Linked DNA regions of Homo sapiens. The main gene of each other region encodes a partner of the protein of the gene in region 2 in a complex. Each region holds a gene or a part of one and is shown on either strand. Other genes may lie near its edges.

Region 1 (7,673 bases), on a different chromosome or scaffold from region 2:
CTCGGACTTCCCAGCCTCCAGAACTGGGAGAAACAAATGTCTGTTGTTGAGGCCTCCCAGCCTACAATATTTTTGTTATAGCAGCCCAAGCTAAGGCAGGTAGCCAAAGGAAAGCCAGGCTTTTGTTTAATCAGTAGCAGGGGGTCAGTGTTCAAAGTTTAGTTAAATAACTAAATGCAGAATCTCATTCTCCAATAGGGTACAATCAACGCAAAGCCCAGCTCTTTCCTCTGCCTTTGACCTGGAGCTGTCCCATCTGAATTTATGCTGGGGGAGGACAGATCACCCAAGCTTGACAATGGTTCACATAGCATTTCATCTCCCGGTATCTAGGTGACACCCTAAAGGCCCTCCCTCTGTGCAAATACTCCCCCAGACTTAGTCTCTCCCTTTCCTCATTTTGCTAAGGATAGTGGCCCATTTTACTTCTAAAACAAGTTTCCATCATTTTCAAATCATGATATACTTGGAATAGAATCCATACCCTTTTGTCCAGCCCCCACGTGGAATGTGGTCTCTACCACCCTTCCTGGGCTGGGCTCAGCTGCCTCCCAGGCCAGCTCCCTGCTTTGTGGCCACAGTTTCCTGTCAGTTTCCTCAGCACACCTGGCTCTGGGCCCCACAGGACCTTTGTACAAGACCTTTGGTCCATCTGAAACACCTTCTGCCCAACTCTGCAGGACTGCCTTCTTCCTTCGCAAGTCTTGGTCAACTTTCCTTCTCAACAACCAAAGCACCGCCCCTCACACCCCCTTACCCCCACATCAGCTTGCTGGTGTCCGCCGTATCACCCAATTCCATTCTCATATTTTAGGCACATTTGCAAGCCTAGGAAGGTGTGGTTCCTAAGAGAGACTTTAAATCACAAATATTTATATTCCTGTTTTTTCTGCCTATGGAACTGTGACCACATGAGTAGCGGGTGCTCTGAGATGATACTTTAAAAACTAGCTGGCCAGTGCTGAGGAGGGCAGAGCCCTGTGAGGTTACCACTGACAGAGCTGGGGACAAACGCATTTTAGGAAAGCAAAGAAGCCAGGCCAGGTCAGTCCTGGGAGCCACTGTGCCACGAGGCAGGGGCAACGTTCTTCCAGAAAACAGTCCCAGTTGTGGGACAAATTTGAAGCTGCAAACTCTACACTATAGACAGAACTGTGATCATTTTATTCTGAATAACTTAGTGGGTGTCACCATGAGCATAAAAACATTTCATCAAATATACACACACTGTGTTAGGATTTGAGCAATGTCATTTCCTGGAAGGTTTTCTGAGATAGACTTCACCTGCAGGTAACCAGAAGTTTACTTGCTGTGGTGAGTTGTTAGGTGAAACCAATTATATGTCAGGGCCCAGCTGCCAGACAGGAGCATCTTGCTTTTGGAGTGTTTGATTCCCCTGCCACTTTTTGAGACAGTAATTAGTAGCAGGAAACTGTCACCAGCCAACTGATAATCCCCTCACATACAAACACAAATAATCCAGGCATCCTGTGCACCCTTGCTTATCACGGCCAAGAAGTACTTTTCATCTCCATTTCATAACTTGATTACTCTATGCCTCCCCAAACAGAGCATAAGCTTCTTGAGGCCAGCGATTTTGACTGTTGTTCTCATTGTGATCTACCCAGCAACTGGAACAGTACCGGCACGTAGAAGACGTGACGTGCATTTGCTGCATGAATAAACACATGAACATGATGGCATAGGAGAATGCTACTTTGATGGGGTACATGGGTATCAAGGATTTTCTTTCTGCTCACACAACATGAGATTTGTAATTAAGACACAGATTTAAGGTGAGTCCGGTGGCTCACACCTGTAGTCCCAGCACTTTGGGAGGCTGAGGCAGGAGGATCACTTGAAGTCAGGAGTTCGAGACCAGCCTGGCCAACATGGTGAAACTCTGTCTCTACTAAAAATACAAAAATTAGATGGGAGCAGTGGCACATGTCTGTAATCCCAGCTCCTCGGGAGGCTGAGAATCGCTTAAACCTGGGAGGCAGAGGTTCCAGTGGGCCAAGATCACGCTACTGCACTCCAGTCTGGGCGAGAGAGCAAGACTCTGTCTCACCAAAAAAATAAAAGACACAAATTTAAAATCACGATGACCAGAATATGGCTCTGTTTCACTCACTGGAAATTATCTGATCTGCAAGATAATTCTTACCAACCCCTGAGTGTTTTTTACAGGGATGGGAGTCCATTGACTCTCTAAAATCACTTGCGAAGTTTTGTTGCTGCGGAGCTGAGAGCTGGGGCCAGCCTGCCTGTTGTGCCCCTCCATAAGACTCCTGGCCATGCATTTGAGCACACCTCATGAAGGGGGCAGGTGGCTGGCCGGGCTGTTATGTGTAGCAAGCATGTGTTCTAAATTACAATTCATTTGTTCTAAATTACATTCATCATTTCTAAATTTGTTCTAAATTTAGAACACAGCCCCAGGAGACCCCCTTCACCCAACCATGTTCTGCAGTCTTGATTCATTTTCTTACTTAAAAAATGCTATTGATAACCTGTTGCTATTTCTGCCTCAGTCTCTTAGGAAATGTATAAAACAGAAAATCACATATCTTCAAAGCTCTGGAGCTTTACATGATGAAGATAAGCAATGATTTCTCATTTCATTCTTTCTCTTAATCAACTGAATTAATTATATACTCATTTTCATTTGGATATGATGACTAGGCAGACTTCAAGTATAACCATCCATAACCTTGCTTAATGCCATGATGTTTGGATTTTTTTCAAAGAGAGGAAAAAACTCCCTTGGCTTCTATTACAGCATCCATATTTTGTGCCATTTTAATTTTTTCTTGTGTCTTTTTTCTCTCTCTTTGGGAAATATCAGTATCATTCCTTTTGGTAAATTTTAAATCACCACTTAATTTCCAATAGAAAAAATGTTTTAGTTACACCTAAAATAATCCCAAACCTCAAACACACTGTGAGCACACCAGAAAGTAAAAATTATATGGAGTAGAACAGATTAGCCCAGAATACCTCCCATTCATTTTCCCAGGTTCCTAATTTAATAATTTCAGTGACTTTAATTTATCACAGACCCTCAGTCTGAACTCGGCATGAGCAGGGTAGACAACCAAACCTGAAAATTCAAGTTAAAATTCTTGTTTGGGAGCTTATATTATCTAGATTAATCATCCACAAGGATCAAGTCAGCTAAGTAACTCTGGTTCAGCTTAATCTCTGTGGAGGCAGAATTAGTCCTTTACAGTCTAGGTCCTTGCCCCAGCCCCATACATTTCTGTCTGCTTTTTTCTTTTCTTTTCTTTTCTGTTTTGAGACAGATTCTCGCTCTGTTGCCCAGGCTGGAGTGCAGTGGCACAATCTCGGCTCACTGCAACTTCCATCTCCTGGGTTCGAACAATTCTCCTGCTTTAGCCTCCACACATGCCACCACCGGCTAATTTTTGTATATTTTTTTTTTTTTTTTTTTTTGAGACGGAGTCTCGCTCTGTCACCCAGGCCGGACTGCGGACTGCAGTGGCGCAATCTCGGCTCACTGCAAGCTCCGCTTCCCGGGTTCACGCCATTCTCCTGCCTCAGCCTCCCGAGTAGCTGGGACTACAGGCGCCCGCCACCACGCCCGGCTAATTTTTTGTATTTTTAGTAGAGACGGGGTTTCACCTTGTTAGCCAGGATGGTCTCGATCTCCTGACCTCATGATCCACCCGCCTCGGCCTCCCAAAGTGCTGGGATTACAGGCGTGAGCCACCGCGCCCGGCCTAATTTTTGTATTTTTAGTAGGGACGGAGTTTCACCATGTTGGCCAGGCTGATCCCAAACTCCTGACCTCAAGTGATCTGCCCGCCTCAGCCTCCAAAGTGCTGGGGTTACAGGTGTGAGCCACGGAGCCCAGACTGTTTCTTTCTTAAGCTCTTACTTTCTCATGTGTGAGTTACCTTGTAGGTTTCCAAGGCAGAGGGGACAAGATGGAAAAGGAGAACACAGAAATCTAGCCTGGAGGAGCTGCTCTGTTCCTGTATTTATCTGTGTAGGTGTGAATGAGGGAGAAAATGACAAGAGAATGACATTATTTTAAGGCTGTTTTCCCCCCCCCAATCATTTACTTTTTGAGAAATAATTGCCCAATACTGAAAGGTATGTCCTTTCAAAATGTTGATGTTTCAAATGGCTTCCTAATTACCTAGTTATACGGGGGGTGTGTATGGTTATCTGAAGTTACATGGGTATACACTGGTGGTGTGAGGTGTCCAGAGAGAGGAAAGGAAGAGCAGTCCTGGTGGCTCAAACCCTGAGGGATGTGCGGGGGATGGGTGAGAATGTGAACAGACATGTTGGAAGCTGAATCCGTGCAGTGGCACCCATGCCTGTAGCCATCTCAGTGGGGGGTCCTTCTACGAACAAGCTTTGATTAATGATATTTTAATGCTAGTTTAGCTTTTTAGCACTCCCACGCCTAAAGGCTCTGATAGAAGCAAGGCCCCCACCCCTGCAAAAAAAAAAATCCATGATTTTTACGCATTCCAACAGATCTCTTAAGGGGCAGACGGCCGGAGAGCCAGGTGTGCCAGGGACCTATGGCAGCAGGGCTGAACGTGCCCGCTCCAGCCTCTCCAGTGCTGGGAGAGACCTCTAGATGGTGCAGGTGAGTTTGCAATGAGGGAAAGCCCCTCGGCAAGGACTGAGTTTCCAAACTTGCAGACAGGGCAGGGAGCGGTCAAGGAAGAGTTCCCGGGAAGCCCTTTAAACGGAAAGGAAGCGGGGCTAGTGTCAGAGAGGTGTGCCAGGTCCCAGGCAGCCCTGCTGGCCCCTAAGGACATAGAGTACCTGCTTCTGAGAGGGCTGCCACGGTGGCCACCTGTGAAGCCTGTCACCCAGAACTGGATGGTACCTGACTTTCTTCATAGACCCATCTTCTGCTGGGACTGAAGCTGACCTCCAACAGAAGCCAGGTAAGCCCTGGTCCTTTCCTCTGGTTTTCTAAACTCTTCAGCTGTGGCCGAGACGGAGGTGTCATGGGCTGGGAGAGAGGCTGGGTGCATTTTTGAAATGCATGTCATTTTTGGGTTGCGTTTGAACAAGCTTTACCGATTGCAGTATGTCTGCGCTACCAGTTCTAAGACCTGAGATTGTTCCTTTGTTTTAGAAAAACATCAGAAACCCTGTTTTGCTGTTGGTTGCACATTTGGTTAGGGAGACAAATTCTGTGTGTGCTTCACAGGCTTTAAGATTTGGGCTACTGAAGCAACGGGTTCCTCCAGGGAGCGTGAAAAGTATGTTTCTCAGGTTTGCCCCTGTGCCCGGCTCACTGGGGAAGGCAGGCGCGGCAGGGACTCTAGCTGGGCTCTGTACCTGCCTCCAACTCTGCGTACCCGCTGTGACCTAAGAGACCTTCCAAGTGGGGTTTCCAGTCGTGTCTGAGACCCCCCATATCCTGGCCTCTGTGTTGGTGGCGGGGGAGCGGGGAGAGGGAGAGAAGGAGGGGAGTGGGTACCTATTTGTGATGATTGAGGTTTTCATTTCCAGCCAAGAGGTTCCTCTCAACACTCTGACAGACCGTGGGGTGGGTTGGGCTCCTAGACAGGAGTCGGCTCTGATTCAGTCGGCTCTGATTCCCAGCCTCCTGCAGCAGCCAAGCTTTGAGATGTCAGCTCAGGGAGAAGCGGGTGGCTGGGCAGGGAGGTCAGCAGGCGAGGTTCCCACTGGGTTTCCCTGCCCATGTTGTGCTGGGTCAGCAACAAGAGGGACAGTTAAAATCAACAAGCAGGGCAGATGCCGGTCAGTGGGCAATCCCACACAGCCAGGGGTACACGCATGTGAGGAGACGTACGGAGAGACAGGAGCACCACCGTCCTCTTCCCCAGTCCCCAGGCCACTGCTCTGTGGCTCTCAAGTGGCATTTTTGAGACACTTTCTAAGCAAGAGTGAAAGTGTAACAAAGAAGTGAAGAGCCATAATAGACTGAAGGAAAAAAGGGATCCAGGCATCTAAAATAGAGAATGTTTCTTGCCTGGCTTAATACTCTGAGATTTGTAAGTCATAGCCACTTAAAACCTTTAAAGATACATTTTGACAGAGGCCACCAAAAAGAGAGTGACTCTGGTCAAGGCTTGGAAATAAGCGTTCGTTCCGATGACAGTCCACGTGTACCCTTCACGGCTGGGAAAGTTTGGCGATCCTGGTGGCGATTGGCCGGGGGTCTCCACTGTACCCCTCCCCATCCCTAAGTGGGCCAGGCTGTGCTGTGGGAGGATTAATTTGTGACAGCACAGTTGGAGGATAATCTTGGAAGGACCAGTCTTTGGGAGGAAAAAGTAAATACACTTTCCCTGAAATGCTTGATTTTCACTCCCTGGCCACTACCTGGTTTCTTGCTTTTGTGAGCTGGACTTTCATTTTGTTGGGCATACACATTTGTGAAGCACAGACATGTCAGGGGCTCATCTTTGTTTCTCAGGCATCATGGTACCCTCTTGCCTAGCCCAGTGCCTGCCATTGGGCGGCAGCCCAACATTGCTCCGGAGTGCAGACAGACCTGGTCTTACCCCATCTCACGGAGCGCAAAACCTACTTGCCTCTGTTAAATGGGGAGCCTCTTCTAGTCAAAGTTCCTCAGGTCTCATAGGCCCACAGATGGAAGCTGGGTTACCTGACGCTCCTTTCTGGGTCCAAGTGAGTGCGTTTTGTGGTTTCCAAAGAATAGAATTTATTCTCAAGGAAATGCCCAGGAACCCAGCTTCAAAGACTCAAGCAAATCTGAAATTCAAATACAGGAGCTGTAAACAGGATGGTGTTTGGCAGACAGCCTTGCTGCTTAAGTGGCTCAGCCCCTCAGCTGGGCTCAGTTTCCCCTCACCCTCCTCCTAGCCTGCCTAGTGACTGCCTGCATGCCTCAATTATCCTGGATGACACCTGCCTGCTCGTTCCTTTGATGCTGTTTGAGGCTCTGCCTAGGTATTCCACCCACCAATAGTATCATTAATTAACTTACATTAAGCCCACTTAGCACATTAGATCAATTAGGGGACAAAAGCCCCAGCCAGCCTTTCCTGTGAGTATGCCGCCTCCATCTCAATGCCTACGATTCTGTCCTTACTGAATTCGTATATTGCAGGAAGGAATTTTTTTTAAGTCCCAAAGATTACTATTTTCCTAAAAAATAAAGCAAGGAAACATAAGCTGATGTCTAATCATTTAACCTCTGCTGTACATTTCTATGGCACTTTACAAAGCGTTGTCATGAATGTCTTCTCTATTTTCCCAATAAGGAAATTGAGGCTCAGAGAGGTTCACTGTCTTGCCCGAAGTCCCACAGCTCATAATGATTATGGGAACACCAAGAACTGGTCTAGGTTAGCACTCAGTATGCCCAGGCCTCGTGTGGAGCCTGTCACTCATAATTGGAGGGGCTGAGACTAGAACCTGTGTCCTCTGCCTCCAACACTGACACATTTGCCCCCACAAGGAGATGGTGCAATGACAGCCACCAGGGATTATAAAAATAAGAGTGGAGTAAGCAAACACTCCCCCTCCTGTATCTTAGTTTCCCAGGGTCGTGTCAGCCCCAGACACACTCATCTCCTGTCCTCAGAGGCGAGGGATCAAGAGGAAACAGTCTCAGTTTTGTTCTTTGTGAACCCTCCTGATAAAAGTTAGAGTGTTTGTAGTTTTTATATAGTGAAAAAAACTGT
Region 2 (6,959 bases):
ATTTGCTGTAACAGCAGTTGTTTGTGTTTAAAAACTAAAATATAAAAATATGACCTACGTGGCCAAATCCCACAAGGCTGTTTACTTCCTTATTTACTGAATCAGAATCTGTCAGCACAATGTAGAATTCTGAGTGTCAGCAGATACTGAAAATTAAATGTCACTGTAAAGCCAGCAGAGGGTGCACCAGGGCACTAGAAATTTTAACCAAGCTTGTAGCAGTATTAATTTAATACCCAATCAACTTTTTTAAAAAGTTATTTTTGTATACTAAAACTAATATACAAGATAAGATAAACTTAAGTTGAACAACTTAAAATAAACAAGTTGAATTTGGGCTAAAATTCCTTCAAAGTATACTCCAAATCTGAAAGTGAAGTTCAGGAAGAATAAGGAACACACGGTTAAACTTACTGTGGTCAAAATACAGGCAGAGTAGAACAAAATGATGCAGAGCTGAGCCCTCTACTTTGCAAAAGTTCTAATGTGGAGCTCCATCTTGCTCCCTCGCAAAAGGTCCCAGGAGGTAGTTGGGGGAATGGGCACCCAACTAGGAGTTAGAGCAACTATCATCCCAGTTTTGACTCTAGTTATGTGACCTTGGGCAAGTCACTTTCCCTTTAGGGCCTATGTTTCCCAAGGGAATCAAACGAAATGGACTCATATAAGCCCTTCATAACTCTAGGAAACTGATTCCAATTGATGTCAACAAATGTAAAGAGCTAGTATCCTTGCTTCTATTGCTCAAAAATATTAAAACAGAAAGAATAAAAGACAGAAGATAGGAAGCTGTGTTTAAATCTAGACAGAACTATTTTAGTGCCACACAAAGGGTAGGTAACTAAATGCCATTATACACCTGTAAGAGTTTCATGCCATCACAGAAACCTTACAGTACAGCTGTTCTGCTAATCCTCAGTCTATAAAAATGGCTCTGTCCATCCTGAATGCCAAAAAGTATTGGCCAACATTTGATTAAAGAAGTTTAATTCTTTCATCTTTTCACAGAATATCAATGTTCAGCTGCTAAATACTTCTGCTGGGCATTGGGGTGTGGGGGGAGTGGCAGTAGATAAATAAAGGAGTCAGAATCCTAGTTAATTATCGTTTAGCTACAATGTTTAAAGTTTCAAGTATGAGAAGCATGTCTGCTGATTCTCTTCTTTGATAAGCTGTTATATAAATTGGAGTGTGCTAGTAAGACATTTTAAGGCTCAGGGCAACTTTACAATGCACATCTTTTTTTTTTTTTTTAAGTATCAGTCCTAACATTACACTATTATCATGAATATGATGTCTCTATCAAGCGTACCACTTTAGATGGGAGGTCAAAGTGGCACAAATAATGTTTACAGAGTTGTGACAATGACTCTGGATGTGGCAGTAAATATAGAAGGCTTGGGTCCCTCACCTCAAGGAACTTATTTGTACAACTTGCTCTCTTCCCTAAGAGGTACAATTTTATTATTATTCTTTAGCCACCTCGAAAGGATCCTTGGATGCTTCTCCTAAGTTTCACATATGGCAACCAAGACAGTATTTACGTTAAGTGAACGAAATTTACTTGAATAAAAAGCTAGAAAGAATAGAATAGAAAACAAACACCAAAGCTAATAGTTTGCTTATTAGGGCACAAACACCATAAAGATTGCAAAAACAAACAAAACTGCTCTTGGGGGACGAGTCCTGAGTAATTATTCCATTGGCAGATTCCCGTTCTCAAGCTAACAGTAGTAAAAGCGCTTCCCACCCACCCTTCCCACCGCACACCTACCCCGCTTAAGAATCAGAACCGGCATGCAAAGGGTGAGTTTTATTTCCATAGATTTTTAAAATTGCTGTTCAGAAGTTGTCTAGCAAGACGGCATATTTCTACCAGAATTCCTCAGGGGCGCTGATCCTCACTAGAACGCCGAGGACAATCAGTCTCAAATTGCAGGTAAGTGTGAACAAGCCCACGTTCTGGTCAGCGCACAAGGACCCGCGCTGAAAATGCGGTTAAAAGTTGTTTCAACGGGCGGGCGTGGAACAGTTATTACAGCTGTTTACAGCTCCAACTCCAAAGGGGAGCCTGCTGGTTCTGGCATCAGCTCTAGACACGAAAAAACAAGCACCGCGGGCAGAGAACCTCATCACGAGCAGAAGGGCCAAGCCGTTAGTCGGCCGGGGGGCAGCGCAGGCACCTCCTCGACGGGAGCGTCGCCAACTTTTCTCGAGGCAGCCCGCAGCCAGGGGCCGCGGGCGCGCGCGAGACTTTCCAAGTCAAGGGGTCCCCAGGGAGTCTGGATTAGCTGGGCCAGGGACCGAAGACAACCTGCCCTGGGCAACTTCTCCCTTGCTCGCCTGGTCCCTCCCTGGTCCTGCCCTCTAAATTGGCTCGAGGTTGCTGAGTGCTCCCAGGCCCCTGTGGCGGAGGGCCCTCGCCCTACCCGCGAGGGGAGGGGGCCGCCGCCGCCCCTACTAGGTGACTCACCTGGTGCCCGTCCTGGGAGTCAGAGTGGAGTGCGGCTTCTCCCGGTTCCAATGGCTGCTGCTTAGGTGACGGCTGCCCAAGGTGACTGGTGATGGGGCTGTCAGGGTCGAGGCCACCGAGGCTGCTTAGGGTGCCAGAGGTGCCAGGGGTGCCCGAGCCGCCAAGGCGGGACTCGGCTCCACGTTCCCGCCGCAACTCCGAGCGCAACTCTAGGTAGCAGCACAACGTCAGCAGGTGGAGGGCCAGCGAGAGGCCAAAGAAACCCAGGAAGAGCAGGCAGCTGTTCCCTTCGCCCGCCCGGGCAGGGGCCCCGCCACACCCGCAGCCCTGGCTCCCTCGCTCCCGCGGCGCTGCTGCAGGCAGGAGTTCCCTGCGCTCCACCTCCGGGTAGCCCATGGCCTCCGGAGACACCCACTCTCTTGAGGCCCGGGAGCCGCTGCGTCTGCCTCAGCCGTTCACGACCTCTGACAGGCGGCTACTGTCCTGCCATCGGCTGGGGGCTGCAGGGACCCGTTCCTGCGCGACAGTGGCTGGGCGGGACGGAGCAGGGAGCAGCCGCATGTGCAGCTCTACTCCGAGGGGTGGGAAAGGGAGGAGGAGGGGCGGGAGAGAGGGGAGGCTCGGCCCGCCGAGGGAATGAAGGAGGAGGTCCCGGCCGACCCCGCCCCATCCCTCAAGCGGCTGCCGGGACGCCCAACCACGGGGCCGCCAAGCCTTGGCGCCCCGCCCCGTGCCGTTCCAGCCGGGCCTCCAGCCGCGGGGCGGGGCCTGGGGGCGTGAGGGTTCGCCTCTGCCTGGCCGCCCCACCCAGCTCTTCCCGCTTGCCCCGTACCAGTTGGTGACTGGCGCTGTCGTTCATCCCTGGGCTCCGCCCCAGTTTAACCCTATAGCGCCAGTACGGGGAGGAAAGGAGGGGGAGGCTAAGAATTTGGGAACCTTGGAAAGAAAGTAGAGCAAAGAAAAGGAGGCAGAAACTAGCATTAATAGAAATGTTTGCAATTAACTGCAGTTGTTAATAACATCATCCAGTACTTATCTGTTGCTTCCAATCTTCAAAGCGTTTAACAGACGTTAAACTAATTAAAACAGCTCTGGGTTTGGAATGAAACCATGCCTGCTGTGTTTGCAATTCAATGGCTCGCCCGAAGAAAAGGAGACCCAGGAGCCTGGGAACTATGGGAATGGGTGGGACTCAAGCAGCCTCACTCCTGGAGTGACTCTGAAGGCTCAATCTAAGTAACAGAGAAGCCGCCCCATGCCAAGCGGAACTGAAATGATGTTGTCCCTTGAAGGGTAAAACAGTCTCCTAGGATTTCTTGATATATTAATTAATTCAACAAATATCTATCGATCCCTGTACAATGCAAAAAATGCTGTATGAGAGCATCCACAGCCAGAATAGATTTCTTCCACTGCAGCAGTTTTGATTGGAGAACGTATGTCTTCAGTGAGTAGACAGGGAAACCGAGGGCCAGAATGAAGTGGATTTGTACAAGTGTGGTCCACAGAATGGCCAGACACTACTGGCATCTTTATTTACAGGCAACTGTTCTGGCCTCTCCACCCCTCCCATCCTTCTCCTGGAGTACTCCCTGGGGGAAGTTCAACAAGTCAGCCAAATGTTCCAGATGTACACTGCTGCAACTGCAGCATCTTCAACAGCTGCACCAATCAGAAACGGGTTCAGATAAAAAAAAAAAAGTGGCAAAAGGCAGAACAATAGACCCTGAAATGAAGGATGGAAAGGATTAAATCAAGAGTCACAATTGACAAGAGTTACTAGTCTGAGATTATAGAAAGCGAAATGACCATAGCAGGGGAACCATGTATGCTTCATAGTCACTACGCACTCTCATTCCGTGTTATTGAGTAATGAATAATTAACAATTTTATTGACTTGCAGCAGGCATCTTGAGTGTCATCATGGAGGCTCAGCAATGCCGGGGGCACTTATGTGTAGGCCTAAGACCTAGGCTGGTGGAAGAGAAGAAAAACATAGATAGAAATAGAAAAGAAGACAAAATAAGAGAAATAAAACACAAAACCAAAAGCATCTGCTGGCAGGTCAGTCCAGAGAGCACAGAGGTCATAAGCCTTAAATATATTAGCCACAGACAACTTTTCTCTGTACACTTTGTGAATGGTCTCAGTGCTTCAAAAACATCTTTGTGTCGTCTCTTTAACCCCTACCCATGAAATATAAAGTTCACAAAGAATATCATCATCCTAGAGCTAAGGGGAAAAAAGGTGTTTAACAGCTGCTCTCAAGTCCTGCTTGTCCAGTCCAGGAATTCTAGATGCTAGGAAAACTGCCAGGCTGATTTACTTTAATTATCACAGCCCGGGATTATTGGAAAGAATGCTAGACCAGGAGTCAGGAGACTTCATCCTGCCACTAGGTTGCTGGGTCCCTCTGAGCAAGTCACTGTGCTTTTTCAGGGCCTTAGTTTCTCCGGCAGTAAAATGAGGAGTTTGAACTTTAACAGCCTTTACACTGTGTTTTGTCTGTGTTGTCACTGGCCATGTTGACTTTCTTGCATACACAGTTTAAACAGGCTGCCCTTTCTTCCTCTAAAATGAAAAGGAAACAAATGACAGCCATCTCCTGGTGGTGATGGTGATGCTCAGGGGCCACACTGGTCTCACCTTACCATGTTCTACCAGGCTTGACTGAGACTCTGGATTACACCATTGCCCTCAGAAGCCCTGAGGGTTGCATTTGACCTGGGACCTCTCTTTGCTTCCCCAGAGAAAGAACATGTGTCATCATATGCAGTAGAAATGTTGGAATGGGGCAATCCAGAGAGGAATGTATGTGGTTATTTTTTAAGTGTTTTAAAGTTTTGTTTCAGTTAGCTTCTATGCTTCCATACGTATCCTGTCCCCTAAAGCACAGGTCTCAATGACAGCCTGCAGGCCACATCCAGCAAACAGATGTGTTGTGTTCGGTGCAGTATCAACTAAACCTTTGAATTAAAAAAAAAAAAAAGCAATTGTCAGCTATTGGAACTCTGGAGATTTCACATTTTTAAAAAATCCAGATTTCCTGCTTTTCTGTTAAAAAACCAGAAGACCCTATAACTCTGGATTCACATTCCCATGTGGCTACACTCAGCTAGAACTGTCTCCTTGAAATAAGCATGAACAATCAAGTTCCACAGCCATCACCACCTCTTTCTTCTATCCTTCATTACTGTCCTTGTCACTCATTCACCTTACCTCTTTGATCCCAGGTACTACGGGAGACAAGATATAAGCTCCTTAACATGCCCTCTAGTCTGTCTCTCCAACATTATCTTCCACCATTTTACAAGGAAGTCATGCTTGCACACTACTAAATTTGCTGACACTTCTCACACCACCGTGCCTTTGAACAAACTAGTTTCTTTGTCAAGATTGCCCCTACCTTAGAAACCTGATAAATTCTTCAAGAATCAATTCACATGTTCTGTCTGGTATGGCCCCACAACTCACTCCAACCAGACTTCCTTTGTGCTTTCATTGCACCCTGAGCATACTTTGATGATATCACTTACCACACTGCATTTTGAATGTTTCACATGGATTTCTTACCACTAAACTATGAGCTCCTTGATGGTAAGAATTGTGTCCTTTCTATTTTGCTATTTCTAATCTCTAGCATAGCACCTACCACATAGTAGGCACCAATATTGTTTTATTTTGATATTTCTAATACCTAGCATGGCACCTACCACATAGTAGGCACCAATATTGTTTGTCAAATGAATAAGACATGAAGTCACTCACGGTAACTTAGACTACCTAGAATTCCAAAAAGGGAACTTGTCCAAGGGATGCCTGTCCGTACCACTTATGAAACATTTCCTGGGTGAAGAGCTACATGATACATTATGGAAAGTTACAAAGGAAATAGAACCAAATGAAAATTGTGAAATTATCCTCTTACTTGTGCTGCTATGGAAGTTGTGAGTAATCCAGAAAAATAAATAATCCAGAAATTAAAATATAGTTGGTTTGTAATATTTCACTGACCTGTCTGTCTCATCAAGTTTCCCTTCCTACTTTTGTTTGTCTGGCCCTAAAAAATAATATAGCTGGGCGTGGTGGCTCATGCCTGTAATCTCAACACTTTGGGAGGCTGAGATGGGCAGATCACCTGAGGTCAGGAGTTCCAGATCAGCCTGGCCAACATGGTGAAAACCCATCTCTACTAAAAATACAAAAATTAGTTGGATATGGTGGCGGGCACCTGTAATCCCAACTACTCAGGAGGCTGAGGCAGGAAAATCGCTTGAACCAGAGAGGCGGAGGTTGCAGTGAGCTGAGATTGTGCCATTGCACTCCAGCATGGGTGACAAAAGCGAAACTCTATCTCAAAAAATAAAATAAAATAAAATAAAATAAAATAAAATAAAATAAAATAAAATAAAATAAAATAAAATAAAATAAAATAAAATAAAACAATATTAGTTGACAACCCCCAAATAATAAAGATCCAAAATAT

Evidence for each region. The genes of interacting proteins can lie anywhere in the genome.
Region 1: the proteins of EDA (region 2) and EDAR are in contact, whole or in part, in a crystal structure (PDB 7X9G), measured with the Homo sapiens proteins. Residues at the interface, in NP_001390.1 of Homo sapiens: Gln256, Ser258, Ala259, Gln261, Asp265, Asp273, Arg289, Tyr310, Tyr311, Lys340, Thr341, Tyr343, Ser370; in NP_071731.1 of Homo sapiens: Glu55, Pro56, Tyr57, Leu58, Lys78, Ile86, Arg88, Arg89, His90, Asp92, Glu94, Gly95, Phe97, Val134.

What each region holds. Positions count from the first base shown.
Region 1 is NC_000002.12:108,986,221-108,993,893, reverse strand, and holds the start of EDAR (tumor necrosis factor receptor superfamily member EDAR precursor), read left to right. Parts: upstream 1-4,673; 5' UTR 4,674-4,934; intron 4,935-7,673. UniProt on the Homo sapiens protein: Receptor for EDA isoform A1, but not for EDA isoform A2. Mediates the activation of NF-kappa-B and JNK. May promote caspase-independent cell death.
Region 2 is NC_000023.11:69,612,219-69,619,177, reverse strand, and holds the start of EDA (ectodysplasin-A), read right to left. Parts: upstream 3,066-6,959; 5' UTR 2,870-3,065; coding exon 2,474-2,869; intron 2,093-2,473; coding exon of another isoform or gene 2,087-2,092; exon of another isoform or gene 1-2,086. UniProt on the Homo sapiens protein: Cytokine which is involved in epithelial-mesenchymal signaling during morphogenesis of ectodermal organs. Functions as a ligand activating the DEATH-domain containing receptors EDAR and EDA2R. May also play a role in cell adhesion.